Linked DNA regions of Homo sapiens. The protein of the gene in region 1 interacts with the protein of each later gene in a biochemical or structural test. Each region holds a gene or a part of one and is shown in the gene's direction. Other genes may lie near its edges.

Region 1 (4,433 bases):
ATTTAAGGGCCCACCAGAAGCAGGCCTCGAGGAGTCAATTTGCCTCTGTGTGCCTCAGTGGAGACAAGTGGGAAAACATGGTCCCACCTGTGCGAGACCCCCTGTCCTGTGCTGCTCACTCAACAACATCTTTGTGTTGCTTTCACCAGGCTGAGACCCTACCCTATGGGGTATATGGGCTTTTACCTGTGCACCAGTGTGACAGGAAAGATTCATGTCACTACTGTCCGTGGCTACAATTCAAAGGTATCCAATGTCGCTGTAAATTTTATGGCACTATTTTTATTGGAGGATTTGGTCAGAATGCAGTTGTTGTACAACTCATAAATACTAACTGCTGATTTTGACACATGTGTGCTCCAAATGATCTGGTGGTTATTTAACGTACCTCTTAAAATTCGTTGAAACGATTTCAGGTCAACTCTGAAGAGTATTTGAAAGCAGGACTTCAGAACAGTGTTTGATTTTTATTTTATAAATTTAAGCATTCAAATTAGGCAAATCTTTGGCTGCAGGCAGCAAAAACAGCTGGACTTATTTAAAACAACTTGTTTTTGAGTTTTCTTATATATATATTGATTATTTGTTTTACACACATGCAGTAGCACTTTGGTAAGAGTTAAAGAGTAAAGCAGCTTATGTTGTCAGGTCGTTCTTATCTAGAGAAGAGCTATAGCAGATCTCGGACAAACTCAGAATATATTCACTTTCATTTTTGACAGGATTCCCTCCACAACTCAGTTTCATATATTATTCCGTATTACATTTTTGCAGCTAAATTACCATAAAATGTCAGCAAATGTAAAAATTTAATTTCTGAAAAGCACCATTAGCCCATTTCCCCCAAATTAAACGTAAATGTTTTTTTTCAGCACATGTTACCATGTCTGACCTGCAAAAATGCTGGAGAAAAATGAAGGAAAAAATTATGTTTTTCAGTTTAATTCTGTTAACTGAAGATATTCCAACTCAAAACCAGCCTCATGCTCTGATTAGATAATCTTTTACATTGAACCTTTACTCTCAAAGCCATGTGTGGAGGGGGCTTGTCACTATTGTAGGCTCACTGGATTGGTCATTTAGAGTTTCACAGACTCTTACCAGCATATATAGTATTTAATTGTTTCAAAAAAAATCAAACTGTAGTTGTTTTGGCGATAGGTCTCACGCAACACATTTTTGTATGTGTGTGTGTGTGCGTGTGTGTGTGTGTGTGTGAAAAATTGCATTCATTGACTTCAGGTAGATTAAGGTATCTTTTTATTCATTGCCCTCAGGAAAGTTAAGGTATCAATGAGACCCTTAAGCCAATCATGTAATAACTGCATGTGTCTGGTCCAGGAGAAGTATTGAATAAGCCATTTCTACTGCTTACTCATGTCCCTATTTATGATTTCAACATGGATACATATTTCAGTTCTTTCTTTTTCTCACTATCTGAAAATACATTTCCCTCCCTCTCTTCCCCCCAATATCTCCCTTTTTTTCTCTCTTCCTCTATCTTCCAAACCCCACTTTCTCCCTCCTCCTTTTCCTGTGTTCTCTTAAGCAGATAGCACATACCCCCACCCAGTACCAAATTTCAGAACACAAGAAGGTCCAGTTCTTCCCCCTTCACATAAAGGAACATGGTTTGTCAGCCTTTCTCCTGTTTATGGGTTTCTTCCAGCAGAACAGAGACATTGCCAACCATATTGGATCTGCTTGCTGTCCAAACCAGCAAACTTTCCTGGGCAAATCACAATCAGTGAGTAAATAGACAGCCTTTCTGCTGCCTTGGGTTTCTGTGCAGATAAACAGAAATGCTCTGATTAGAAAGGAAATGAATGGTTCCACTCAAATGTCCTGCAATTTAGGATTGCAGATTTCTGCCTTGAAATACCTGTTTCTTTGGGACATTCCGTCCTGATGATTTTTATTTTTGTTGGTTTTTATTTTTGGGGGGAATGACATGTTTGGGTCTTTTATACATGAAAATTTGTTTGACAATAATCTCACAAAACATATTTTACATCTGAACAAAATGCCTTTTTGTTTACCGTAGCGTATACATTTGTTTTGGGATTTTTGTGTGTTTGTTGGGAATTTTGTTTTTAGCCAGGTCAGTATTGATGAGGCTGATCATTTGGCTCTTTTTTTCCTTCCAGAAGAGTTGCATCAACAAAGTTAATTGTATTTATGTATGTAAATAGATTTTAAGCTTCATTATAAAATATTGTTAATGCCTATAACTTTTTTTCAATTTTTTTGTGTGTGTTTCTAAGGACTTTTTCTTAGGTTTGCTAAATACTGTAGGGAAAAAAATGCTTCTTTCTACTTTGTTTATTTTAGACTTTAAAATGAGCTACTTCTTATTCACTTTTGTAAACAGCTAATAGCATGGTTCCAATTTTTTTTAAGTTCACTTTTTTTGTTCTAGGGGAAATGAATGTGCAAAAAAAGAAAAAGAACTGTTGGTTATTTGTGTTATTCTGGATGTATAAAAATCAATGGAAAAAAATAAACTTTCAAATTGAAATGACGGTATAACACATCTACTGAAAAAGCAACGGGAAATGTGGTCCTATTTAAGCCAGCCCCCACCTAGGGTCTATTTGTGTGGCAGTTATTGGGTTTGGTCACAAAACATCCTGAAAATTCGTGCGTGGGCTTCTTTCTCCCTGGTACAAACGTATGGAATGCTTCTTAAAGGGGAACTGTCAAGCTGGTGTCTTCAGCCAGATGACATGAGAGAATATCCCAGAACCCTCTCTCCAAGGTGTTTCTAGATAGCACAGGAGAGCAGGCACTGCACTGTCCACAGTCCACGGTACACAGTCGGGTGGGCCGCCTCCCCTCTCCTGGGAGCATTCGTCGTGCCCAGCCTGAGCAGGGCAGCTGGACTGCTGCTGTTCAGGAGCCACCAGAGCCTTCCTCTCTTTGTACCACAGTTTCTTCTGTAAATCCAGTGTTACAATCAGTGTGAATGGCAAATAAACAGTTTGACAAGTACATACACCATATCCAATTGGTTTTGTCTTTCTCTGAGATGGAGGGTTGGGAAACTGAGTAAGGCCCACTGCACACACTAGGAAGATACCTCCAGTGAACAGCTTCAGGCTGAAGCTATGTCCTCACCCCCGGTGCTCCTAGCACACTCTGGCTTCTGAAGGCATGAGGGCCTGGAAAAGGCGCAGGCTCCCAGGGTTGCTTCTTTGCATATGAAAGAGCACTGAAGCATGTTTTAATGCTTGTTTTAAAAAATAATAATAGGCCGGCGCGGTGGCTCACGCCTGTAATCCCAGCACGTTGGGAGGCCGAGGCGGGCGGATCATGAGGTCAGGAGATCGCGACCATCCTGGCTAACACGGTGAAACTCTGTCTCTACTAAAAATATAAAAAATTAGCCTGGCGTGGTGGCGGCTGTAGTCCCAACTACTCAGGAGGCTGAGGCAGAAGAATGGCGTGAACCCGGGAGGCGGAAGTTGCAGTGAGCCGAGATCGCGCCACTGCACTCTAGCCTGGGCGACAGAGCGAGACTCCATCTCAAAAATAATAATAATAATAAAGAAACTAAAAAGAGTTACATGACACTAGCCAACCCAAAGTGGAAAGGGCTGTATGTTCAACCTAAGGCCAGGAAGCTTCATCTGCCTTCATTGCTGTACATTGCAGGAATCAGGCTTGGGTAGTGGTTGGGAGTTTTTTAAAAGAAATACTTCTCTCACCACCACCCCAGTGCAAAGTATCTTTAGTATTTTAGTTTCAAGACTCTGGGTTCAACTCAAGGTATCTTCCCACCAAGAATTACTGTCTAAAGTATCTTCCAGTTCTGTCACTGCTGTCTCATGGGACCTCATGACTGATGCTAGAAGAAAATCTTCAGCCGAATCAAGTTTAAAGGAGTTTAACTGAGCAATGAACAATTTGTGAATCGGGCAGCCCCCAGGAACACAGCAGATTCACGGAGACTCCAGGGGTGCCTCGTGGTCAGAACAAATTTATAGACCAAACAGGTAGAGTGATGTACAAGAATCGGAAGTGAGGTACAGATACAGTGAGATTGGTTACAGCTTGGCGTTTGCCTTATTTGAACGCAGTTTGAACATTCAGGAGTCTATGAGTGGTTGAATTATGACCACTGGGATTGGCCAACCCTTAGCTATTGTTACAGGTGCATACTATTAAGTTAGGTTTTTAATTTTGTCTGACCATTAAGCTAGGTTACAGTTCATCCACAGGACTCAAATATAGAAATATGGAGTCCTTCTCAGGCCATATTTAGTTTGCTTTAACATTGATCTTAAATGGTCTGCAGGAGGACCACAAAAAATGTCAGGAACCAAAGTGGGGTCAGCAAGAAAGGATGTGACCTAGAAGTCACCGCTCCTGAGCACAGGTAGGAAACAGGGGTAGGATCAGGCAGTACATGGACATGGCCATGCACAAAGAAG
Region 2 (3,066 bases), on another chromosome or scaffold:
GTGTCTGTAGTCCCAACTACTTGGGAGGCTGAGGCAGAGAATTGCTTGAACCTGGGAGGCGGAGTTTGCAGTGAGCTGAGATCATACCACTGCACTCCAGCCTAGGCGACAGATCAAGACTCCGTCTCAAGAAAAAAAAAAAAAAAAAACCCTCTGACTCTAAGATCCCCAAACACTGTGATCCTGAGTTGTTAAAGCAAATGCAAATAGCCAGACTTGCCAGATGCAGGCTGTGTGCCAGCAGGACCAGCTATGTAACCTGCAGGGCCCCTTGTTCAGATTTCAAGATGGCGACCACAGAGCATTAAACAAAGCACAGGGTGCCACATAACCACATAGGTCACACGCCCATGAAGCCAGCCCTGGAGGCCAGGCACTGTTTCTGAGCGCTTTGCTGGTGGTAATTTATTTCTCATGATGCGAATGTACAGATGAGGAATATTGAGGCCAGGGGGGTTTAGGTGACTTTCCCAAGGTCACAGTTGGGTGGTAAAGAGCCCTATTCAACCCCAGTTCATGGTCCCAGCATCAGTGGCCACATACGACATCCGCACCTGTGCTCTAATAAATACGGCTCATGCTGTTTTGTGGGATTCCACCTCAGACTGGAATTTAGAAGAGGGCGTCCTTGCTTTGAAAAACACTGATTTAAAAATAAAGTGGAGCCAGGCGCAGTGGCTCATGCCTGTAATCCCAGCACTTTGGGAGGCTGAAGCGGGTGGATCACATGAGGTCAGGAGTTCGAGACCAGCCTGGCTAACATGGTGAAACCCCATCTCTACCAAAAATACAAAAATTAGCTGGGCGTAGTGACGGGCACCTGTAGTCCCAGCTACTCGGGAGGCTGAGGCAGAAGACTTGCTTGAATCTGGGAGGTGGGGGTTGCAGTGAGCCGAGATTGCACCACTGCACTCCAGCCTGGGCGACAGAGCAAGACTCAGTATCAAAAAAAATAAAAAACATAAAATAGAAAGTAAAAAGTGGGAAGTTTAAGCCTCTGGGTCACCAGCCTCTCCCCCTCACCCAGGCATCATCCGACAAGGGCTCCTGCTGCATCGTAGCTGCTGGCAGCCAAGGCCCTGTCGTCCCAGCCTGGTCTGGCCCCCGGGAGGCCCCTGACAGCCTGTTTGCTGTCCGGAGGCACCTGTGGGGTAGCCATGGAAACAGCACATTCCCAGGTAAGAATGGTCCTTGCACTACACGGTGCCCCCAAGCTCCTAATCCTGACAGGCTCTGGGTGGAGGGTGCAAAGGAGCTCCATGCTGCCCCTTCCCACCACCACCACCACTGCAGCTGCCGCCACTCAGCCTTTGGGAAAATGCATCCGCTCACAAAAGCTTCCTTTCGGGATGTCCGTGGCCTGAAAGCCCCCCATATGGTCTCGAGTGTCGGGCCCCTAGCCCTGACTCCCTTGGGGATTGGGGCCATGCCTCACCCACTCTGGACTCCAGCTACTATATTCGGCCATCAGAAGGGAGGGACCCTGCTAAGTAATTCCAGGAGCACCTCCTTTCCTCCCCTGACCAAGGAAAATCGGGGTGGATTCGCCCGAGCTCACCTATCCACTGCTCTCCACCAGGCCTGGCCTGTGGGCTTAGCAGGGATCAGAGACCTTGACTGTCATCCTGGCTCTGCCATTTAACCTCTTGCATCCTTTGGTGTGCAAGTTACTCCGCTTCTTTTCAACCTCGGGGAGAACTATTTTGGCAGAAGTGGTGCAAAGAATAAATGATACAACTTATGTCAGGTGCTCAGCAAACAGTACCTGTGCCCGTGGACACGGGTGTTGACGGTGAGATCTCAGGCCTGTAGACTCACCTTGTAGGGGGAGGGGACAGGGAGCTAGCTAGGAGGTCCTGCATGGGGCTTGATTCATCCCCACCCTCTGACAGAGTTCCTCCACAACATGGACTACTTCAAGTTCCACAACATGCGACCCCCTTTCACCTACGCCACGCTCATCCGCTGGGTAAGCAGGGCAGCTCGGCCCCAAGGAGGAGGAAGACAAAGATGGGGTGGGGGACCTGCCTCCCAAACTCCTGTCTCCCTCTGAGTGCCCTCAGAGTGGGTTCCTCCATTCCCAAGCCCCAGCCCCAAGGATCCCCAAGCCGTGCCTCAAATGTGACCCCTCATGCTGGCTTCACCCCAAACCTGTCCGCAAATCCAAACCTAAACCACCATCCAGGCCAGAGCATGCCAAATTCTGACCCTAAACCTACCCCTTTCCAGATGTCCACCTCAGCCCCATACCTAACCCTCTCCTGGACCCATAAAATAGCCTAAAGCTAACCCCATCTCTGCACCTTGCCCTAAACGTACCCCAGCTCTTACTCTAACTCCTTCCCCAGCCTTTATGCCAACCCAACCCCATCTCCTTCCCTGGCCCCAACGTACCCCAGTATGTCAATACACCCCCAACTGGGCACCATTCCCAACCTTTCCTTGTAACACCCATTTGATCCTTAACTTCATCACCCCATCCCAACTCCTTCATCTCAGCCTCCCCAATGCCTTCTCAGAACCTTCATCCTAGCGCCACACCTAACCCCAAACCTGAACCTCACCCCTACATGATACCAGATATTCCCCGACTGTCTCTGAACTGAAACCCTGACCTAGCCCCATCCTGACTGATAGCCTCACTGCAATCATCATCGCTGACTCTGTAATCCCATTCCTGAATCCAAACTGATCAAATTCCCTGACCCTCAGCCTCACTCCACACCGAACCCCACAACTAACCTCATCCTTGCCCTGAGCCTAACCACCTAACCATGTCCCTGACACGTAAGATACTCGATAATTCAAACCATCTCTGGCTTCTGACCTAAAGCCAAGTCATCCCATCCCTCACCCCTAGACCCCCCACCTGAGTCCACCCCAGCCTGACTCTTAACCCACCCCTTCCCTGACCCTTAAGTTGGCCTGGCCCTTTACCCCTTCCAAATCCTTGACCCCACTTCTGACCCTTCACCTTCCCCAACCCTGAAATGTCACCTCCACAGAGAACCCCAACTCCAACTCCATCCCAGACCTTTCACCTCACTTCAGCCCTAGCCCTGAACA
Region 3 (4,433 bases), on another chromosome or scaffold:
AGGAGTCCACCGCACCTGCCCTGGGGCTGCTGGATGGAAGGAGGTGGAAGGCTCCCTAATGGAAACTTACATAAATACTGTGCGCTATGCAGCGTCTTCACAACAGCCCCTCTGTTACAGAAAGGGGTGACTTACCCAAGGGCCCACACTGGGGAAGAGGCCAAGCTGGGATTCCAGCTGTGTAGCATCAGCCTCCCGGGCCCATGCTGTTTCCTCTAAGCCAGGCTTCAGCCCATGGCCCCCTCCGTGGAGGTGACCTGCTTCCTTTACGTGATATTTTAATCCTGGGCCCTTCAGAAGGTGAAATTTGGAGTGGGAAGGTGAACGTGTTGGTCCTATTGAGGTCCACCTTCCACTTGAGCTCTGGGGACCACTCTGGCCCTGGAGGACCTGTCCCCTCCAGCTCAGCTGAGAGTCTGGGAGGCATCATGCTTTCCTTCCTTTCTTTTTTTTTTTTTTTTTAAAAAAAACACATATGTATATTTAGAAAAGAAATTGTGCTGTATACAATCTGATGACTTGCTTTTTTTTATATGGCATTGTTTTTCCATACCAGTTAGTACGCATCCAGAATATAATTTTTAAGGGCTGCATAGTATTCTGGAATACAATAATGTACCTAATCCCCTACCATTGGATATCTGGATTATTTCTCAGCATTTTAATAAGAAAACAGTATACTTGTAGCCAAATATTTACACTTATCGGAAATTTTCCCTTACAATGAATTCCAGGAAGTGTGACTACTGGTCAAAGAGTACACACAATTATTTGACTAATGTCAAATAGCTTTCTAGAGTACCTTCAGTAATGTGCACCTCCTTTAGCACCCCAGCCCTCATAGGCATTGCCTAATTTCCTGCATCTTTATAAATACTGGCATCAATATTTAAACATTTTTGTTTCTGGTTTGTAGGTGAAAATTATAGATGTTCTACACTGCAGTTCTTTGACCATTAGCAAGGTTGAACATTTTTTTCCATGACTTGATGGGTCCCAAATTCTTTCTTGATTGAGATCCATAGGAACAGCACACAGTCTGCTTGAGGAAGTCTCATTGCTCTGAGTGTCTCTGGCTCTTTGATTTTACTGCCTTATGCTGCTGAAAGAGGCAGAGAGAGTCCCAGAGGGAAGCCTGGGGCTGAAGGGTGACCTGTGGAGTCACTGTGGGATTCCCAGCTGGCTCTGCTGCCAGGGCACACCAGGTTTTTGCAGGGTCTGGCAGGAGGGGGCCTGGTCCAAGTATCCTTAAATAGCTCCTTCTCTTCCCTCATCTCTCCCAGACATGATGGACTCGTCCAGCTTCTCCAATCTGGATCTGAGTGAAGAAGATTCAGATGACCCTTCTGTGACCCTAGAGCTGTCCCAGCTCTCCATGCTGCCCCACCTGGCTGACCTGGTCAGTTACAGCATCCAAAAGGTCATTGGCTTTGCTAAGATGATACCAGGATTCAGGTAAGAAACTTCTGCAATCTCTGGGGAACAGAGTCAGAGTCCTAGACTGAGCTACAAGAAGGGTTGGAGATCACTCATCCACCACTTCTTTTTTTTATTTTTTATTTTTTTAAACGGCATCTTGCTCTGTCACGCAGGCTGGAGTGCAGTGGCGCGATCTCGGCTCACTGCAACCTCCGCCTCCTAGGTTCAAGCGATTCTCCTGCCTCAACCTCCCAAGTAGCTGGGATTACAGGCACCAGACACCACGCCCGGCTAATTTATTTATTTATTTATTTATTTATTTATTTTTATTTTTTTTCCAGACAGATTCTCGCTCTGATGCCCAGGCTGGAGTGCAGTGGCACTATCTTGGCTCACTATAACCTCCGCCTCCCGGGTTCAAGTGATTCTCCTGCCTCAGCCTCCTAAGTAGCTGGGATTACAGGTGTGGGCCACCAAGCCCGGCTAATTTTTATAATTTTAGTAGAGACGGGGTTTCACCACGTTGGCCAGGCTGCTCTCGATCACCTGACCTCGTGATCCAACCACCTTGGTCTCCCAAAGTGCTGGGATTACAGGCATGAGCCATCGCGCCCTGCCCTAATTTTTTTATTTTTAGTAGAGACGGAGTTTCGCCATGTTGGCCAGGCTTGTCTCAAACTCCTGACCTCAAGTGATCCACCCACCTCAGCCTCCCAAAGTGCTGGGATTACGGGCATGAGCCACAGCAGCCAGCCTCCATTGCTTCTTTAAAATAGAGATTCAGACCCTACCCTAGACCTGCGAAATCAGAATCTCTGGCGTAGGCCCAGAAATCTGTATTTAGAAAGTGCAGCCTGTCTTGCGTTACTCTGCAGGCCAGCACTGGAGAGCTAGTCCATCCCCGCACTTTCTGGATGATGGTGTGGAAGCCCAGAGAGGTCCAATGGCCAGCCAGGATCCCTTCCAGGTGTTGGAGCCAGCATGTCAGAGCCAGGCCTAGAACTCCCAGCTCACTGCTGTGTTCACTCCAGCTGGCTTGACTGGAATCCTCATATTATCTCTTTAAATTCAACGATATGATTCCTCCACACCCCAACTCTGAGAGCAGAATGAAGTGATAGAGAGAAGGGCTTGGCCATGTAGACTTGTGAAACAGTCTAGGAATCCTGGAGAGAGATAGGTTTACTGGCATATATGACCCTGGCATCCTTCACCAAAATGTACATTTAAAGACCATTTCCTGGCTGGGCACAGTGGCACATGCCTATCCCAACACTTTGAGAGACTGAGGTAGGAGGATTGCTTCAGCCCAGGAGTTCCAGACCAGCCTGATCAACATAGTGAGACCTCTTCTCTACAAAAAAAAAAAATTATAAATTAGCCAGGTGTGGTTGCACATGCCTGTAGTCCCACCTACTAGGGAGGCTGAGGCAGGAGAATCACTTGAGCCCAGGAGGTCAAGGCTACAGTGATCCATGATTTCACCACTGCACTCCAGCCTGGGCAACAGAGCAAGACCCTGTCTCAAAAAAGAAAAAAATAAAGACCATTTCCTAACCATACTGATACATTTTTGCCAAAATATATAAGTATAAGGAGTTCTACTGGAGAAGGGATCCTCCTTTATCAATTCATTCATATAAATTTCATTCATTTATTCCTATGTTTCATTGTTTTAACACTAGTACTGTATATAATACTTATATTTAAATACTCATGCAGTGTTAATTTTTTTTTTCTTTTTTGAGACGGTTTCGCTCTTTTCACCTAGGCTGGAGTGCAATGGCGCGATCTCAGCTCACTGCAACCTCCGCCTTCCAGGTTCAAGCAATTCTCCTGCTTCAGCCTCCCAAGTAGCTGGAACTACAGGAGCGTGCCACCATGCCTGGCTAATTTTTTGTATTTTTTTTGAGACAGAGTTTCCCTCTTGTTGCCCAGGCCGGAGTACAATGACGCGATCTCAACTTACTGCAACCTCTGCCTCCTGGGTTCAAGCAATTCTCCTGCCTCAGCCTCCTGAGTAGCAGAAATTACAGGCACGCACCACCACGCCTGGCTAGTTTTGTATTTTTAGTAGTAGAGTTGGGGTTTCACCATCTTGGCCAGGCTGGTCTTGAACTACTGACCTCAGGTGATCTGCCAGCCTCAGCTTCCCAAAGTGCTGGGATTACAGGCATGAACCACCACGCCCGGCCAATATTCTTTTTTTTTTTTTTTTTAATTGAGGCAGAGTCTCGCTCTGTCGCCTAGGCTGGAGTGCAGTGGCATGATCTCGGCTCACTGCAAGCTCCGCCTCCCGGGTTCACGCCACTCTCCTGCCTCAGTCTCCCGAGTAGCTGGGATGACAGGCGCCCGCCACTACGCCCGGCTAATTTTTTTGTATTTTTAGTAGAGACAGGGTTTCACCGTGTTAGCCAGGATGGTCTTGATCTCCTGACCTCGTGATCCGCCTGTCTCGGCCTCCCAAAGTGCTGGGATTACAGGCATGAGCCACTGCCGGCCAATATTCTTAAAACAATAGAGTATTGACACATTTAATAGATGTGTTGGGAAATGGCTATATTTATGTATATTTGTATCTTCATTCTTCCCCAAAGTTCATTTGGTATATTGCCATAAAATACATAAACAATATGGTTGAGAAAGAGAAGTAAATCAATCTCAAGCAATGTTATTGTCTTTCAAGTAGCAGCAATAGCTGTATTTACGGCAGAAGGGGCAAAATGCTTCCTAGATACTAATGCTCAGATTCAGTGCTGGAATATGGGGAGCTGGAAAATGAGTTAACATTGCCGGCTCTGGATGGAAACAGATTATGAGGTGCCATATATTGGTGTATGGCCCTCTTAGCTGTGTAGAAAAGCCATGAGTTATTGCCGAAATTAATGCCTTGCCAGTGAGATGATGGTCATTCACAGAGCTAAACCCAGAACTTTCCAGTTTGTTTCTGCCCTGAGAAAACTGGCTCTGTGTTATTTTATGCCTCTCACCAACCCAAATAACAGAAATTTTTC
Region 4 (4,433 bases), on another chromosome or scaffold:
CAGGAACACTACACAGAGAGGATCATTCTCATTCTTTTTGCATGGGAAAAAAAAAGAATTATCATCCACAAAACAGATCTTGAGACTAAACAATAACAACAAAAAGAATTAACATTCCCATGAAAGAAAATTTGGAAAATACAAAAAAGTAGAAAGGGGGAAAAAAATCATTCAAAACTCCATAATGAAAATAAAACTATGGCCAGGCACAGTGGCTTACGTCTGTAATCTCAGCACTTTGGGAGGCCAAGGTGGGTGGATCACTTGAGGTCAGGAGTTCGAGACCAGCCTGGCCTACATGGTGAAACCCCATCTCTACTAAAATACAAAAATTAGCCAGGTATGGTGGCAGGCGCCGGTAATCCCAGCTACTCGGGAAGGTGAGGCAGTAGAATTGCTTGAACCTGGGAGGTGGAGGTTGCAGTAAGCCAAGATCGTGCCACTGCACTCCAGCCTGGGTGACAGAGCCAGACTCTGTCTCAGAAAAAGAAAAGAAAAGAAAACTATGATTAACATCCTGGCATATTTATTTATTTATAGAGGTTTTTTCTTTTTAATTTTTTTTTAAATAGAGATAGGGTCTTGCTGTGTTGCCCAGGCTGGTGTGTGAACTCCTAGGCTCAAGCGATGCACCTGCCTCAGCCTCCCAAAGTGCTGGCATTACAGGCATGAGCCACCACATGCAGCCTCTATATGGAGTTTTTTTAAAAAAAACACATGCAGTCATACTGCTTTTTAATTTCGCTTTGCTTAATTTCAAAACACTTCTGTTCTCTAGGGGTTGAATTCTCATCTCAATTTTCTTATCTACTCCAAGGGATTGAACGACCACCAGCTCCCTTTTGAACTGTTAGACACTTATTTTTGACTCCCTGATAGGCGTCTCTATTTCAGATGTCCCAAAGGTACCTCAAGCTCACCACATCCAGACATTGTAGCCCTTATCTTGGTCCACAGCCTGCTCTTCCTCCTCCTGGGCCCTCCCTTGGCATGAGCAGTATCTCCATGTCCCTGTTGAATGAAGCTGGAAATTGAACCCCTCTCCCCCATCCAGGCAGTGACTGAGTCCTGACATTTCTACTTCTATAATGCCTCTGTTCTGTCTTCATTCCCACTATCATTGCCACAGACGGAGCCCGAAGATGTCTGAGCCCCTAACTCTGGCTGCGAACTAGGTCCCCAGCCCTGACTCTAGACTGAATCCCTCTTGTCCCCCGACTATAGGTTGAGCCCCTTGCCCTTGCCATCAGCTGGTCTATTCCCAATGGCCTTAGAATGAATCTAATCCTCATAGACTGAGCCCTAACCTGGCCACGGGTTAAACCATAACTACAACCAGTTAAAAATACTTGCCTGGCCGGGTGCAGTGGCTCACGCCTGTAATCCCAGCACTTTGGGAGGCCGAGGTGGGTGGATCACGAGGTCAGGAGATCGAGACCATCCTGGCTAACACGGTGAAACTCCATCTCTACTAAAAATACAAAAAATTAGACAGGTGTGGTGGCGGGTGCCTGTAGTCCCAGCTACTCGGGAGGCTGAGGCAGGAGAATGGCGTGAACCCAGGAGGCGGAGTTTGCAGTGAGCCAAGATTGCGCCACTGCCCTCCAGCCTGGGCGACAGAGTGAGACTCCGTCTCAAAAAAAAAAAAAAAAGCTTGCCCTTGGCTGGGCATGGTGGCTCACGCCTGTAATCCCAGCACTTTGGGAGGCTGAGGCAGGTGGATCACCTGAGGTCAGGAGTTCGAGACCAGCCTGGCCAACATGATGAAACCTTGTCTCTACAAAAACTATAAAAATTAGCCAGGCATGGTGGCACACACCTGTAATCCCAACTACTGGGGAAGCTGAGGTAGGAGAATCGCTTGAACCCGGGAGGCGGAGGTTGCAGTGAGCTGAGATCATGCCACTGCACTCTAGCCTGGGCGACAGAGCGAGGCTCTATCTCAAAAAAAAAAAAATGCTTAAAGGGCTGGTGGTGCAGAGCTAACCCATCTATTCATCAAGAACCCACTCAAAGCATCACCTAATGAGGCTGGACCCAGAGTTATATCATCCTATACAAAGGACAGTCCCTGATGAACCCAAGAATAAGGACTTGCACAGAGGGCCAGATTCTGGTAGGGAGGGTTTGCTGGAAGAGCTGGGTGGGTCTTGAATCACATCCCTGTCTTCTCCATAGCTGGAAGACCCCTCTGTGTTCCCAGCTGTGATCGTGGAGCAGGTACCCTACCCTGATTTACTGCATCTGTACTCGGGACTGGAGTTGGACGACGTTCACAATGGCATCATAACAGACGGGACCTTGTGCATGACGCAGGATCAGATCCTGGAAGGCAGTTTTTTGCTGACAGGTCTGTTCCCTTCCTGGGCAGAGAAGGTGTGGTAGAAAAAGGGGCTGTGTCTTTAGGGAACAGCAGCCCACAATGGCCTCTAGTAACCCCGTGCAGAATGGGCAAGTCCACCAGCCAAAAAGTTGTGCTGCTTCACAGAGGAGGGAACCATCTTAGTAGATTCATGGTCTGTGGAAGTGGGGTGGGACAATGAGGAGTGAAGACCAGCTGAGGGGGTGGAGAGTTAGGTAAGGAGGGGTGCTGGGCCCTTCCTGGCTGTCCCTCAGTACCTCTGGTCAGGGTCCCCTGTTTCTCCCTCACTTAGCACTCACTTCAGGGTCAGCCCGAAGGATGCTTACCACCATCCTTTCTTCGGGCTGGCCCTGATTATAGCTGTACCCCCTGCCTTGTGCCCTGAGGGAACTTTTCTTCTCTCCTCCCACCATGGAACCCGGACCAGATGACAATGAGGCCACCTCGCACACCATGTCAACCGCGGAAGTCTTACTCAATATGGAGTCTCCCAGCGATATCCTGGATGAGAAGCAGATCTGTAAGTTTGAACCCCAGTGCCTGAACTCAAGGCAACAAAATAATTCCATTTAAAAATATGAAATCCATGTATTGGTTTCTCAGGCATGTGTGCACACAGGTATACATGCACCACACCCACCGATATACATATGACTTTTATCTTTTTGTATTTTGGTGATGGGTTTATTTCAATTAGCACGATGTCCTCAAAGTCCATCCATGTTGTAGCACGTGTCAGAATTTCTTTCCATTTTCAGGCCAGGCACGGTGGCTCACGCCTGTAATCCCAGCACTTTGGGAGGCTGAGGCGGGTGGGTCACCTGAGGTCAGGAGTTCGAGACCAGCCTGACCAACACGGTGAAACCCCATCTTTACTAAAAATATAAAAACTTGCTGGGCGTGGTGGCGCAAGCCTGTAATCCCAGCTACTCAGGAGGCTGAGGCAGGAGAATCACTTGAACCCAGGAGGCAGAGGTTGCAGTTAGCCGAGATCGCACCATTGCACTCCAGCCTGGGTGACAAGAGCGAACCTCTGTCTCAAAAAAATAATAATAATTTATTTCCATTTCAGGCTGAATAATATTGGCCAGGGTGCCTTTCTCAGGCCCCTCTGCTCTTTTGCTTAGCTCCCAGGAAGACTGAGATATGCAGCATGTGGCTCTTTTAGAAATAAGTGATCCAGGCCGGGTGTGGTGGCTCACACCTGTAATCCCAGCACTTTGGGAGGCTGAGGCGGGTGGAATACGAGGTCAGGAGTTCGAGACTGGCCTGGCCAACATGGCAAAACCTCGTCTCTACTAAAAATACAAAAATTAGCCTGGCGTGGTGGCACATGCCTATAATCCCAGCTACTTGGGAGGCTGAGGCAGGAGAATCGCTTGAACCCGGGAGGCAGAGGTTGCAATGAGCCGAGATCACACTATTGCACTCCAGCCTGGGCAACAAGAGCAAGACTGTCTAAATAAATAAATAAATAAAATAAAGAAATAAGTGATCCTTGCCCATCCTACCAGGCTCCTAACTCCCCAGAGGGCCCCCAAGGCAGGCTCTTCCCAATGACCCCTCAGGCAGATGCACAGGAGGGTTCCCCCAGATTGCCTTCTCCCAAGGGGTGGTGTGGTACAGTGAGGGAAGGCAAGCCATAAAGCTGAAATCTGAGAGATTTCTAGTCCTGACTCTCACCAGTATTCATCCAGGATCCAATAATGGGTGCCTATTTGTACCGGGCACCAACTTGCTGTGTGACCTTGGGCACATGACTTCCCCTCTCTGGGTCTGTCTCAGTTTCCTCATCAGGAAAACACAGGAATGGGGCTACATGATCTCTAAGGCCCCTTTGAGTCGTAAAATGAGCCAAGGACTAAATCAAGGTGGCCCTTTACCTGGGGTGCCGCCTAGAACTTCCCTACCACCAACAGTGGGCTATAAATGTGGCAGCTGTAATTGGGGCCAGCTTGTGCCCACAGCTCTGCAGATGTTTCCTCTCCTCGTGGTACAAGCCACATGAGGCATTTTCAGGTGTATCCTGTGTCTGGGGCTGGGGGGATGAGCCCCCCGCCCTCCCTTGGAA
Region 5 (4,433 bases), on another chromosome or scaffold:
TATCCTGATATAACTTTTAAAGCCTTAGGGTAAGGCTACAGTCTTTGTAAGTTGAGGACCAATGTCTTTCCGGAAGGAGTGTTTCTTCCTAGTTCTAGTCATCAGGGAAGGCATTAGTTCTCAGAGAGGAAACCAGATTCTCTGTTTGTGTTTTTTCTTCCCTTTGCCTTACCTCCCAACTTACCAAAGCTTTGTTTAACTCTTCCATCCTTTTCTGAGCAATGTCATGAAAAAGGGAAGAACCTTGTAATCTTCGTTATTCCACAGTGGGGGTGACGGGGAGCCTTTGAGAAGCTCTAGGGGAAGAAAGAGATAAGGATAGGACATTTTTGTTCTTACACGTGTTAGGTGGCGCTTCAGATGATGTGTTAGTTTGCTAGGACTGCCATAAGAAAGTACCACAGACTGAGTGGCTCAAATGAGAAATTTATTTTCTCACAGTTCTGGAAGCTAGAAGTCTGAGATCAAGATATTGGTAGAGTTAATTCCTTCTGAGGCTTCTTTCTGGACTTATAGGTGACTTGTCTTCCAGTGTCTTCACATGGTCTTATGTTTTGTACCTGCCAGTGTTCATATTTCATCTTAGAGGGACACTAACCATATTGGATTAGGGCCTACACTAATAACCTCATTTTAACTCAGTTATCTCTTTAAAGACATTCTGAGGTACTGGGGGTTAGCATGTCAACATAGAATTTTGGGGGATACCATTCAGCCTATAATAGATGATATTAAAGAATTACTGTAGGCCGGGCACGGTGGCTGACACTTGTAATCCCAGCACTTTGGGAGGCCGAGGCGGGCAGATCACCTGAGGTCGGGAGTTCAAGACCAGCCTGACCAACATGGAGAAATCCCGTCTCTACTGAAAATACAGAATTAGCTGGGCATGGTGGCACATGCCTGTATTCCCAGCTACTCAAGAGGCTGAGGCAGGAGAATCGCTTGAATCTGGGAGGCAGAGGTTGCGGTGAGCCAAGATCACACCATTGCACTCCAGCCTGGGCAACAAGATTGAAACTTTGTCTCAAAAAAAAAAAAAAAGATTTATTGTTAGTATATTTAAGATATGATAGTAGTATTGTGTTAGACATCTTTTAGATACACATGCTAAAGTATTTAGAGATAAAATATGGTATTTTAGATTCCTTCAAAATAATCCTGTACAGAGGGTAAGGACTTGAGGGCAGTGAGTGGGGTATGGATGAAAGAAGATTGGCCATTTGGTGATAATAGTTGAAGCTAGGAATGGGCACATGGGGATTCATTATATATACTATACTCCACAATTTTTATTTTGTTTAAAATTTTCATAATAAAAATATTTGAACAGATGCAGCGGCTCACACCTGTAATCCCAGAACTTTGGGAGGCCAAGGAGGGAGGATCACCTGAGCCCAGGAATTCAAGGCCTGGCTTGAGGAATTCAGGCCTGGCTTGAGGAATTCAAGTGAGCAACATAGCGGGACCCTGTCTCTAAAAAAATTTTAAAAATTAGCTGGGCATGGTGGCCTGAGACTGTAGTCCTGTCTACTCGGGAGGCTGAGGTGGTAGGATTGCTTGAGCCTAGGAGTTTATGGTTGCAGTGAGCTATAATTGAGCCACTGCACTCTAGCCTGGGAGACAGGGTAAGACCTTGTCTCAAAAAAAAAAAGCAAAACCAAAAAGATTTAATGATTTTATGAAATTTGAGGCTTAGATTATATTTTGAGCTGTCATCAAAATACATAAATTTTTTTTTAGTCTTGCCAAAAAAAATTAAAGTTGAATTTCATCAAGCCTCCAGATATGACTACTCAGTTAGAGGGGGTATAGAAAAACATGTTAAGCTACACAATAGGAATATAGTTGGCAAAATCCAAACTATGGGAAATTCTACATGAATAAACAGCCTGAGTTCTTCAACAAATAAATTGCAAAGTAAAAAAAGCTAGACAGATGAATGGCAACTCAGAAATGTAAAGAAAGTTAAGAAATGTATCAGTCAATTGCAATATGCAGACTTAATTTGATTTAAGCAAAAAACTGTCTTGTCTTTCCTTGCACTGCCACCATTTATGATTTTTTAACACAATTGAACATTTGAATGCTGGTTGGCTATTTAATATTAAGGAAATATTGATTTTTTAATGTAATAGTTTCTGTTTTTTTTTTTTAAGACAGAGTCTCACTCTGTCACCCAGACTGGAGTGCAGTGGTTTAGTCTCAGCTCATTGAAACCTCCACCTTCTGGGTTCAAACGATTCTCCTATCTCACTCTCCTGAGTAGCTGGGACTACAGGTGCGTGCCACCACGCCCAGCTAATTTTTTGTATTTTTAGTAGAAACAGGGTTTCTCCATGTTGGCCAGTCTCAGACTCCTGACCTCAAGCAATCTGCTTGCCTCGGCTTCCCAAAGTGCGGGATTACAGGAATGAGCCACTGCGCCAGCCAGGTTTGGTATGATTTTGTGTGTTTATAGTTTATATATATATATAAACTAAAATATTAAATGATGTATTCTGGTTCTAGAGATAAGCGGTGTATGACTTTCAGAGTAACAGATGTCTCGTAGTTAATTTAATTTTCTCTTTAAATGTGTTGCAGTTGAAGCTTCTTGTCATGACGGGGATGAAACAATTGAAACTATTGAGGCTGCTGAGGCACTCCTCAATATGGATTCCCCTGGCCCTATGCTGGATGAAAAACGAATAAGTGAGTGATTATGATTGTTTATGTTTATGTACTTTGTTAAGTTACTCTTGCCATCTTTCTTTATTAGTAAAATCAAGAGATTAGAAATGATGTTATATATTTTTTGTTACAATCACATTTTAAGGTATAGTAGGAATTGAGGTGCCTTTGCAAAAACGTAGAGTTAAAGATGACATTTTAATTTGAGAATGAAGCCTTTGGGAACAAAAAAATGTAATTTATTACTTACCAAATAGAAGATCATGCAGAATTTCTTCTCTTAACATATTGATGAGAGTATTAGGGTATCAAGGGCCCAAATGATTATAATTTAGTCATCTCTGTAGTTATCAGCAAATAGGCAACAATCTATTGAAAATTTTACTGACACATCATGGCATAAAATTCACTGCCACATTATTGATCTGCTTTAAAATTCCTGTTCTCCTTTGGGCTTTTCTGACAAGCAATCAAATTCATAAAGTAAATTATTGCTAAATCAGTCTAAAATGTTTATTCAATATTTGCTATATTCACAGCAGCAATAATTAGGCAATAACATGAGATACAAATGAGCAGATACTGTTCCTTTCCTCAAGCTTACAGTTTAATTTTGAAGACAGTTACTTATGTAAATAACTACAAAGCCAAGAATAAAGGCCACAAGAGTGATAGCGAATTGCTCTAGTAGCAGTGGGTATTCTAGCTGAGAATATCAGAGACTGGCTTCATTGAAGGAGTATTCTGACCTGGGCTGTAAATGACAAGCTTTTAATAGGTAGAAGAGACATGAAAGGTCATTCAAGCTGGAGGGAATGGAGTTAAAGATACAAGACACAGATCTGTTAAAAAAAAAATGAATGAAATCTTTGAGATCAAGATGTTTTGGTGTGGTTGAAGTGTAAGCTTCATGGTGGGTGGGAAATGAGATTGGAAAGGTAGGTTTGGAACTAGATTACAGAAGCTTTGTAAGGCATGCTATAGAGATGGGTTGTGATTATTTTTTTGTTTGTTTTTTGTTTTTCCTATGAACTATGGAAAGGTATGTCAGTTTTGTTTTTTATTCCCCTAATTTTATGGTCAGGTCAGACTTAGGTTTCAGAAAATAACTCTCACAGCAATGTGAATAATCAAGAGGAGAGATGAGACAGACTGGTGATAGGAAGTCAAGTAAGAAAGACATTGAAATAGCTCGCCGTGCCTGGACTGGTTTAGGGTATTTGATTTTGGGAAGGGGAACTTAAACGCAGGAATAGATTTCAAGATTTTATTTCTACTTTAATCTTCTAGTCATAATAGAAACAAGAAATTTTCTCAATCGTTTTTTAACTTATAATACACAGTGGACTATAATTAGTTGATTTTATTTTCATTAGATAATAATATATTTAGTTCACCTGAAGATGACATGGTTGTTGCCCCAGTCACCCATGTGTCCGTCACATTAGATGGGATTCCTGAAGTGATGGAAACACAGCAGGTGCAAGAAAAATATGCAGACTCACCGGGAGCCTCATCACCAGAACAGCCTAAGAGGAAAAAAGGTAGGTGGGTTACTTTGTTTAGGGCGCATAGTCAAGTCTTGGTGTGAAATCTAGATATCACTTTTATTCTACATAGTTCTTTCCTGCTGCAGTTAAAACTTATGTAAGAAAAACATTGAAGGCACAAAATGGAAATTATGAGTTATTTCTTGGCCAGGCACGGAGATTCATGCCTGTAATCCCAGCACTTTAGGAGGCCGAGGCAGGAAGATTGTT
Region 6 (4,433 bases), on another chromosome or scaffold:
GCAGCGGGCGCCTGTAGTCCTACTCAGGAGGCTGAGGCAGGAGAATGGTGTGAACCCCGGAGGCGGAGCTTGCAGTGAGCCGAGATCGCGCCACTGCACTCCAGCCTGGGCAACAGAGCCAGACTCCATCTCAAAAAAAAAAAAAAAAAAGAAAATCCATAGGCAACATTTACATGACTACAATTCTGTGAAATGATTCATTGCCTTGTGTGTCAGGATTGGATTTTAGACTTGCACTGTGGGTCTGGTTTTAGGATTCCTGGGCCAATCAAAGGATGAGATATCTAGCCCCAAAGTCAAATGGGATTTTTTGTTTTCTCACTCTTCATCAGTTGTTTAAATTTGTGTTACCTTTTAGTTTTTTCATATTTGGACCATGACTTTCTTAAATTTTTTCCCTAGTATTTCTGATTGCCTTTTAATGTGTTCATGCATTATTTGCCATTATTATGATCTCAAAAGTTTTCTAGGCTCTCAATCTTGTCTAACCTATCGAGTCTTCTTTGTCTAAGCTGTATGCCGAGATTCCTTTCTCGTTCTGTGCCGTTCTGAACTGGTTATTCACTAAGCCCACTACAGAGCTGTCATCCTGGAACTTCTTTCCATGGCTGGAAGTGCTGTTTCCTTTTCCCGTGTCTTCCTATTTTTTTGGTTTATCCCTCATTTTGCTGCAGTACATGCTTGAGTAACTTCTTAAGAAGTGGTTTGTAGGAGGTAAGTTTTTCAAGTCCTTTTTTATCTGAACGTATTTACTTAAAAATTGTTCTGACTCTGGCTTGTTTTTTCTGTTTATCTTTGAATGACAGTATAATGTAGCTGTTTTCATAAGGGCCCTTTGTCATTCAAAAAATACTGTCTGCTAACTCAGTTGTCTGTAATGTGAAGAGAGTGATACCTGTTGCATTGTGGTTTGAAAGATGAGCATATTTAAAGCATCTGGCGCACAGGAGATGTTCAGTACAAGTTAGTTCTTGCTTTCTCTTCTCTCTCTCCCAACACACATAGCCTATTTACCCAGCCAAAATCAGAAGCAGAAACCTTGGCAATAGGGGTCAGGTGATTTTTGACTCTGGATTACAGCTGTAGCTTTGAGGGACAACCTGGATCTGGAGTTGAAAGTCAGTTTTAAGTTTAAAATAAGGAGTTAGAGTCAACTTTCCTGGTTAAGAGAAACCTAAATAGGAATGCTCACTGTAAGTGCCCTTTTGCTTCAGCATTTTGGGCAGAGGATACCCAACTCCATCTGAGAAGTGTCTAGTTTTTATTGTTTGGAATCTAGATTGTCACTACAAATTGAGCTGTTTTTGTGTGTGGGATAGGGGAGGAAGAGGAAATGGAGAAGGGGGAGATGAGCAGGAAAGGTAATTGACATTTGTTGATTACCTGCTGTATGCCAGACAAGGCAGAGAGTGAGAGTCAGCACATCCCAGAGAGATAGCAACAGAATTATATGCATATGGAACTTTTTCATAACCCTAGATGCTTTTACGTATATTATTTCTTTTAACCCTCACAGTGATCCCATGAACAGGTATATATTATTACCTCATTTTACTGTTAAGTAAACTGAGGCTCAGTGAGGTTAAATAAATGTCCTGGGGTCATATAACAGGTGAGTGGCAGAGATGGGATTAGAACTCTGTGATTCCAAAACCTGTGTTCCTGTCCTTATGCCATGCTGTCTCATGCCAATTGTGTGGCCCATAATTAGGTCTTGTAATTATGTATCCTTGATGATCGCATAACTGTGGTGGTGGAGTGGTGGATGGATTTTTAGAGTTTGCTTCTGAACTGAGTCTGGGTTATGCTATTTGGAACTGTCATTGATGGTGAGATAGAGATGATGGAAGAAAACCCAAATATACCAGAAATGGGTAGTACACCTCCATTGTCTATTTATATTTTATTCTCATCAAGATTTCCACCAAGGTGACTCACACCACTAATCTTATCACTTTGGGGGGCCGAGGTGGGAGGATTGCTTGAGGCCAAGAGTTTGAGACAAGCCTGGGCAACATAGCGAGATTCTGTCTCTACAGAATTTTTTTTTTTTTTTTTTTTTGAGATAGCGTTTCACTCTTGTCGCCTAGGCTGGAGTGCAATGGCGCCATCTCAGCTCACGGCAGCCTCCTGCTCCCAGGTTCAGCTGATTCTCCTGCCTCAGCCTCCCGACTAGCTGGGATTATAGGCATCTGCCACCTCGCCTGGCTAATTTTTGTATTTTTAATAGAGACAGAGTTTCACCATGTTGGCCAGGCTGGTCTCAAACTCCTGACCTCAGGTGATCTGCCCACCATGGCATCCCAAAGTGTTGGGATTACAGGCGTGAGCCACTGCACCCGGCGGTCATATGGATTTCTTTCAGCTTATTCTTTACTTGCATGCTCTCTTTCCTGGACTTCTAGCTTTTATTTAATGTTCCGTCTAGGCATAGCAGAAAATAAATAAGAAAGGAAAAGATGATGTTCACTTGCTCAGTGCTATTAGGAGAAGAAGTGAAATGAAGAAACATTTATAAAGTGCTGAGCGCAGTGCCTGGCACAAACACCACCTTTGCAAGTTCATTCCTGTTATTGTTCGGGATTTAGACGGTGAAAGGGGCGATGATCTTCCAGGGCCTTGCCTTTGTGCCATCTAAAAGATCTTTAGCCAGTTCAGCTAATTTACAACTAGAAATCATTTGAACTTGGCTGGGCGCGGTGGCTCACGCCTGTAATCCCAGCACTTTGGGAGGCTGAGGCAGGCAGATCACCTGAGGTCAGGAGTTCGAAACCAGCCTGACCAACATGGAGAAACCCTGTCTCTATTAAAAATACAAAATTAGCCGGGCATGGTGGCGCTTGCCTGTAATTCCAGCTACTCAGGAGGCCGAGGCAGGAGAATCGCTTGAATCCGGGAGGCAGAGGTTGCAGTGAGCCGAGATCATGCCATTGCACTCCAGACTGGGCAACAAGAGCAAAACTCTGCCTCAAAAAAATAAAAAATAAAAAAAATTAAAAAAAAGCATTGAACTCCTGTTTGTGTTAGCATCGTGAGTATGTCCTAAAAGAAGAAATGTGTGGCTGGCTTTATCACCGCAGGCAGCTGACAGAATCTGGAGAGAGAAGGGGAACACAGACAAACCAGGCCAAAGAGCTGGTTTCGACCTGTGGTCCTAGAGCCTGGATCAGCTGCCTTCCACCTTGGTTTGCCGGAAGCCTTTGTAAGGTGTGTCCTAAGTCAGTCATTTATAATATGACTAAAGGTCTGAAATTTGCAGCTGTACAGAATGTCTGTCAGTTTCTCCCATTGGCTGTACTCCTTCTGGCCTCAGGAACTTGGCACAAGCTGTTTCCTTTGCCTGGAACATTATTTCCCTGCTTTTTGCCTGCTTAACTCCTCCATTACCTTCAGATATCAGCTTAGATGCCACATCCTGCAGGAACTTTTCCCCAACTTGCAGCTCCCACTCTGGATTAGATGCTGCTGCTCCTCCTCCCATAGGCCCTTCTGTTTCCTCAGTCATTGCTCCACTCTCATATTACTGTTTTTTTTTTGTTTTGTTTAGTTTTGGTTTTCCTTTTTTTACTGCACTGTAACCTCCATCAGGGGAAGAACGATGTTTGTCTTGCTTGGCATTGCTTAACTTGAGCACAGTGCCTGGCACATAGTAGGTGTTCGAAAGGAATCCTGTATTATTTATTTTTAGCCATTTTCATTGTAAACTTGCACCCTGGAATTCGTAGGAGTCTTCCATGCTTGGAAATGGCATTCCATTGTATCTGTGCCCCTTTGACTGCAAGATTAATGTCAGAGCTCCAGATACTAAATGCAGTGGAGAGGGAGATGAATGAAGGCTGGGTGTTCAGAGAAGTCTCATAAAGGTGCTTAGACATAAATGGAACCTTCAAAAAGTGGCAAAGATATAGGTAGGTGTGCAGACAAGCCTTCCAGGAAAAACAGGATGGGAAGAGAGGTATAGAGGCAGAAATGCTGAGGGTGTGTTTTTGAGACTAAGAGGAGCTTGTACTGACTTGTATTAAAAGATAGGTGTTGGTTGGTAGATGATTATGCATCCCATTGAGGTTCTGGAGCCTCAGCTAGGGTGGGCTCATTGACCTTTTGCTAGTAAATGTCAACTTTCTCACTCCTTAGTTTTGAGATACACGAGTCCTAGCTTTTTGTGACTGTAGCGTAAGACCCCACCATTGTCACCTATGTTGAGATCTTCCTGGTTGTTTAGAGAACTAAGCATTTTATGCTGACTTAAAAGAGTCTGGAAATTATGGTCTTTTTATCTTTCCATTCATAGCTCCATCCTATATTCAATTTAGCAAGTACAGTTCCAAAATTGTGGGTGGTCTTTACTTCCCAAGTAAGTGGGATACCAGGCTACCCTTGACTTGGGACCGCCCCTGCTGGATCTATCATTTCTGCTTGTAAATGAATAGCTT
Region 7 (4,433 bases), on another chromosome or scaffold:
GGGTCACAAACCCATTCCCCGATGATGGGCAGGCAGAGGTTGGGCCTGGGTGACCTGGAGGGAAAGCTCTCGCTCCCAGTGAGGGGGCCAGGCAGAAACAAGTGGGACCAGGCTTGCCATGAGAAGCCAGGTGTTTTGTAATCTCCCAACTGTCAGTTGTTGGCATTGCTGCCAGACTGGGTGACCTTGGACCTGTGTGATTGGCTCTGTTCCGTGCACATTTCTCACATCAGGCCTGCCCTGAGCTGGACACAAGGTGGTCCCTGGCCCTGCCCACACCCTCTGCTGGTCGGGCCCCGGTCTCCCATGCGGGCTCCTTTTGAGAAGCAGGGCCCAGGCTTGTGAAGTGCAGCACAGAGGAAATGGTTCTTGCCGCTGTTGGCAGGAAGGAACTAGGTGTTGAGCTGACAGTTACACTGGCTCCCTGGCTGTGTCAACAGGGAGGTGACATTGAAAGCTGGGTATCAAGGATGCATAGGAGTTTTGTTAGATGGGGAAGGGATGGAACGAGCCTCCCTGTGGCAGGAACAACAAAGATCTGGTCCTGTTGGACGCATCCTTCAGCTTTGCAGGGCCTGACAGGTTCTAGAGCTTTTCCTGCCAGGGCCTCGTCCCAACTTTGAGTTGAGCGGAACCCTGAGGTTGAGCCAGGTCCCTCGACATCCTCCACCTGGACCCTCATCTCTGACCGGAGGCAGGAGACCCTGCCCCAACCCATTCCTATTCAGCTTCCTCTCTCGGGTTCTTCCTTCCTTTTTTTCTCAGCAGGCACCACCTCCCACTTTGAGGGCTGGGTTGGGGGCCCCAGAGCAAGGGCCTGGCTGCATGCCAGACTCCACAGTCTCCCCAGGCTGACTTCCTTCATCACCTCCCATGAAGCCTGGGGCTGGTCCTCTCCGTCGGCAGCAGAGCACAGGGAGAGGCTTTCTTTGGCCCACCTCCCAGCTTTAACACTTTACGGTGGGGCTTTGGGCAAGTTTCTTCTTGCTGAGCCTCAGTTTCCTCCCCCGTAAAATGGGCCAGCTATACATTCCTTGAAAGGTAGATGAAGTCACTCGTGGATAGGCACAGTGGGAGCAGGTTAAGGAAAGAAAGAATAGTGTCTTGCTTTGGACTGGAAGCCCCCGAGGGCAGGAGCGGGTTAGAACCTCTTGCCTGGCACCAGTAAGAGGAGAACTGGGTCCCAGGCCTGTTTGGAATCCCTGCTGGAACCAGCCAGAGGGAAGGGAGGATGTGGACCCTCCTCAGGAACCCCCAGCTGCCGCCTGGAGGCCAAGTTGTAGCCCCTGGTGTAAGGCAGAGAAAGGTCTGGCCCTAAGCCCCTTTCCAAGACAGGGTGCCCTGAGACCCCGCCCAGCAGGAGCCTACCAGGAACCCACTGGCTTGGAAGCACGCTGGCCAGCTCGCTGAGCTCCGCAACTGAGGGGGACTGGGTCCCATTTCACACAGCAGGAGGGTGAGGCCTGGGTGCTGGCAGGCTGAGCTGTCCTGGCGTGTCAGCACTGGACCCCAGGGCTCGGAGGAGGGGCACGGCTGAACACCATTGGTCCCTGGGGTCACACTGCAGAGGTTTGGTTCTGTCTCCTGACCCCTCATGGCACAAGCGCCTGGACTTCTCTGTGCCTCAGTTTCTTTCTTTTTTTTTTTTTTTTTTTGAGACGGGAGTCTCGCTCTGTCACCAGACTAGAGTGCAGTGGTGCGATCTCAGCTCAGCTCACTGCAACCTCCGCCTCCCGGGTTCAAGCGATTCTCATGCCTCAGCCTCCCAAGTAGCTGGGATTACAGGTGTCCACCACCATGCCTGGCTAGTTTTTGTATTTTTAGCAGAGACGAGGTTTCACCATGTTGGCCAGGTGCCTCAGTCTTCTTGTCTCCTTGCCTCCTAGGGTTGTGAGTCCCGGCCCAGCCCCTCCACCCCCCTGCCCCCCCGATGCGACCATGGGCTCTGGCAGTGACTAGGTGGCCACCCTCCGCCCCCGTGGGCCAGCGGCGATTCTCTGCGGGACCTGGCAGCACCCCGGGCCAGCTCTGGGGAAGGTAGGAAGGAGCCTCCCAGTCCTGGTGCTGGGGCATGGGGGCCAGCAGGGGTGGGGCGCAGGGCCCTGAGCTGCCTTCCCTCCCCATGGGGGGAGTCACCCTGGCTTCTCTCCCTGCTCTGTGCACGAGTGGCCCCCCTCAGTCCTATCGGGGCCTCCTCTCTGTGGTGCAGCCCTGGCCTCGAGGGCCCCCTGGCCAGCCCGCCTGCCCGGGATGAGCGCTTACCCTCCCAGCAGCCGCCGTCCCGACCTCCACACCTCCCCGTAGAGGAGCGCCGAGCCTCGGCTCCTGCCGGCGGGAGCCCCCGAATGCTGCACCCAGCCACCCAGCAGAGCCCGTTCATGGTTGATCTCCACGAGCAGGTAGGCAGAACCCCATCCCCTGTGCCCCTGGCCCTGTGAGCCAGTCTGAGAGGCAGAGGCAGCAAGGCCTAGATTTCACCTAGCTTGCTTCATTTCACGTTCCAGGGAGGCATTATTGGCCCTGCTTTACAGGTAGGTAAACTGAGGCCCGGGGAAAGGGCCACACTGGGTGACTAGCAGAGCTAGATTCCCACGGGGCTTTCTCTGCCCCGGGGGCCTGGGAGTAGAGGCACAGTCTGGTCTGCACTGAGGTAGGCCGCCGTGGAGAAGGGAAGGGAGCCGGCAGCTGGATGTGGCAGGATGATTTCTCCTGAGAGTAGCCCTCGCGGTCAGCTTCCTTTTCATACTTTCCCGGCGTTCTCTCCACCCACAGGTGCACCAGGGACCTGTCCCTCTGTCCTACACGGTCACCACAGTGACGACCCAAGGCTTCCCCTTGCCTACAGGCCAGCACATCCCTGGCTGCAGTGCCCAGCAGCTCCCAGCATGCTCCGTGATGTTCAGTGGGCAGCATTACCCCCTCTGCTGCCTCCCGCCCCCGGTGAGTGAGTGTTTCTAGCTCCTCCTCCACCAGCTGCAAGCCCCAGGCACAGGCCAGCGGCTCAGCGGGCCCAGGGCAGCCCTGAACTGGGCTGAGCTATCCAGCCATCCAGGCTGTCAGAGCGCCTGCCTGGCCTCCCCAGGAAAGCATACGCGTGTTCACATTTGGTAATAGAGTGTTTCAAGGTTCAGGAACCTTCCAGTACCCCTGTACCTGCCTCACAGCTTGGCAGAGGCCCAGGAGTTGAGGCTGTGGGCCTTAACAGTGGAGTGTCCTGCCTGGGTGGCCTAGGACAGGGATGGGCCTTCCACAGGGTTTCTTATACAGACCCTGGAGCTGCTGGGTGTGTGCCCGGTGGGGGCCTTTTGCTGGGTGGCATGGCGTAGACCTGGCCCAGAGCCCAGGAGAACGTTCTCAGCCCCCTGCCCCCTCTCTTGGCAGCTTATCCAGGCGTGCACCATGCAGCAGCTGCCTGTGCCCTATCAGGCCTACCCCCACCTCATCTCCAGTGACCACTACATCCTGCACCCCCCACCACCGGCCCCACCCCCCCAGCCCACCCACATGGCGCCCCTGGGGCAGTTTGTGTCTCTGCAGACCCAGCACCCTCGGATGGTGAGTCGGCATGGGTCCGATGCTGGAGGGAGATGGCGTGGGGGGAGGCAGGGTGAGGACAGCCTCGTCTCACTGACTTGCTGACCCGGCGCTGGTTCTTCCAGCCCCTCCAGCGGCTCGACAACGACGTGGACCTGCGTGGGGACCAGCCCTCCCTGGGCAGCTTCACCTACTCCACCTCTGCGCCTGGCCCAGCCCTTTCCCCGTCGGTGCCCCTGCACTACCTGCCCCACGATCCGCTGCACCAGGAGCTGTCCTTTGGTGTGGTGAGTGCCACCCCGACCCCCACCTGGGCTCCAGGGCAGCTGGGAGGCAGACCCGCTGGGCCGACCTGCATCTGGGCTCCCAGGCAGCTGGGAGGCAGGCCCACCGGGCTGACTTGCACGTGGGCTCCGGGGCGGCTGGGAGGCAGGCCTGCTGGGCTGACTTGCACCTGGGCTCCGGGGCGGCTGGGAGGCAGGCCCACCGGGCTGACTTGCACGTGGGCTCCGGGGCGGCTGGGAGGCAGGCCCACCGGGCTGACTTGCACCTGGGCTCCGGGGCGGCTGGGAGGCAGGCCCACCGGGCTGACTTGCACCTGGGCTCCGGGGCGGCTGGGAGGCAGGCCTGCTGGGCTGACCTGCACCTGGCCCCTCTTGCAGCCATATTCTCACATGATGCCACGGAGACTGAGCACCCAGAGATACCGCCTGCAGCAGCCACTGCCCCCGCCGCCCCCACCCCCACCCCCACCACCCTACTACCCCAGCTTCCTGCCCTACTTCCTGTAAGTATCCGCACATCCGCCCCAGGTCCCTGATGCCCTGTTCTCCTGGAACCTCCAGTGGTTAGACCTAAACACAGCTCCAGGGGCCCCAGGGCCTCTGAAGCCACCTGGC

What was found.
Region 2: the proteins of RUNX1 (region 1) and FOXP3 form a complex in vitro, tested with the Homo sapiens proteins (one study listed by BioGRID).
Region 3: the proteins of RUNX1 (region 1) and VDR form a complex in vitro, tested with the Homo sapiens proteins (one study listed by BioGRID).
Region 4: the proteins of RUNX1 (region 1) and ELF4 form a complex in vitro, tested with the Homo sapiens proteins (one study listed by BioGRID).
Region 5: the proteins of RUNX1 (region 1) and ELF1 form a complex in vitro, tested with the Homo sapiens proteins (one study listed by BioGRID).
Region 6: the proteins of RUNX1 (region 1) and WWTR1 form a complex in vitro, tested with the Homo sapiens proteins (one study listed by IntAct).
Region 7: the proteins of RUNX1 (region 1) and RNF44 form a complex in vitro, tested with the Homo sapiens proteins (one study listed by BioGRID).

What each region holds. Positions count from the first base shown.
Region 1 is NC_000021.9:34,786,370-34,790,802, reverse strand, and holds the end of RUNX1 (runt-related transcription factor 1), read left to right. Parts: 3' UTR 1-3,002; downstream 3,003-4,433.
Region 2 is NC_000023.11:49,252,029-49,255,094, reverse strand, and holds part of FOXP3 (forkhead box protein P3), read left to right. Parts: intron 1-1,027; coding exon 1,028-1,178; intron 1,179-1,892; coding exon 1,893-1,969; intron 1,970-3,066. UniProt on the Homo sapiens protein: Transcriptional regulator which is crucial for the development and inhibitory function of regulatory T-cells (Treg).
Region 3 is NC_000012.12:47,852,652-47,857,084, reverse strand, and holds part of VDR (vitamin D3 receptor), read left to right. Parts: intron 1-1,283; coding exon 1,284-1,455; intron 1,456-4,433.
Region 4 is NC_000023.11:130,072,498-130,076,930, reverse strand, and holds part of ELF4 (ETS-related transcription factor Elf-4), read left to right. Parts: intron 1-2,178; coding exon 2,179-2,350; intron 2,351-2,722; exon of another isoform or gene 2,723-2,773; coding exon of another isoform or gene 2,774-2,789; coding exon 2,790-2,882; intron 2,883-4,433. UniProt on the Homo sapiens protein: Transcriptional activator that binds to DNA sequences containing the consensus 5'-WGGA-3'. Transactivates promoters of the hematopoietic growth factor genes CSF2, IL3, IL8, and of the bovine lysozyme gene.
Region 5 is NC_000013.11:40,949,590-40,954,022, reverse strand, and holds part of ELF1 (ETS-related transcription factor Elf-1), read left to right. Parts: intron 1-2,586; coding exon 2,587-2,694; intron 2,695-4,049; coding exon 4,050-4,217; intron 4,218-4,433.
Region 6 is NC_000003.12:149,647,547-149,651,979, reverse strand, and holds part of WWTR1 (WW domain-containing transcription regulator protein 1), read left to right. Parts: intron 1-6; exon of another isoform or gene 7-2,140; intron 2,141-2,877; exon of another isoform or gene 2,878-3,055; intron 3,056-4,433. UniProt on the Homo sapiens protein: Transcriptional coactivator which acts as a downstream regulatory target in the Hippo signaling pathway that plays a pivotal role in organ size control and tumor suppression by restricting proliferation and promoting apoptosis.
Region 7 is NC_000005.10:176,529,970-176,534,402, reverse strand, and holds part of RNF44 (RING finger protein 44), read left to right. Parts: intron 1-1,886; 5' UTR 1,887-1,930; coding exon 1,931-2,037; intron 2,038-2,209; coding exon 2,210-2,399; intron 2,400-2,772; coding exon 2,773-2,940; intron 2,941-3,381; coding exon 3,382-3,555; intron 3,556-3,659; coding exon 3,660-3,821; intron 3,822-4,196; coding exon 4,197-4,321; intron 4,322-4,433.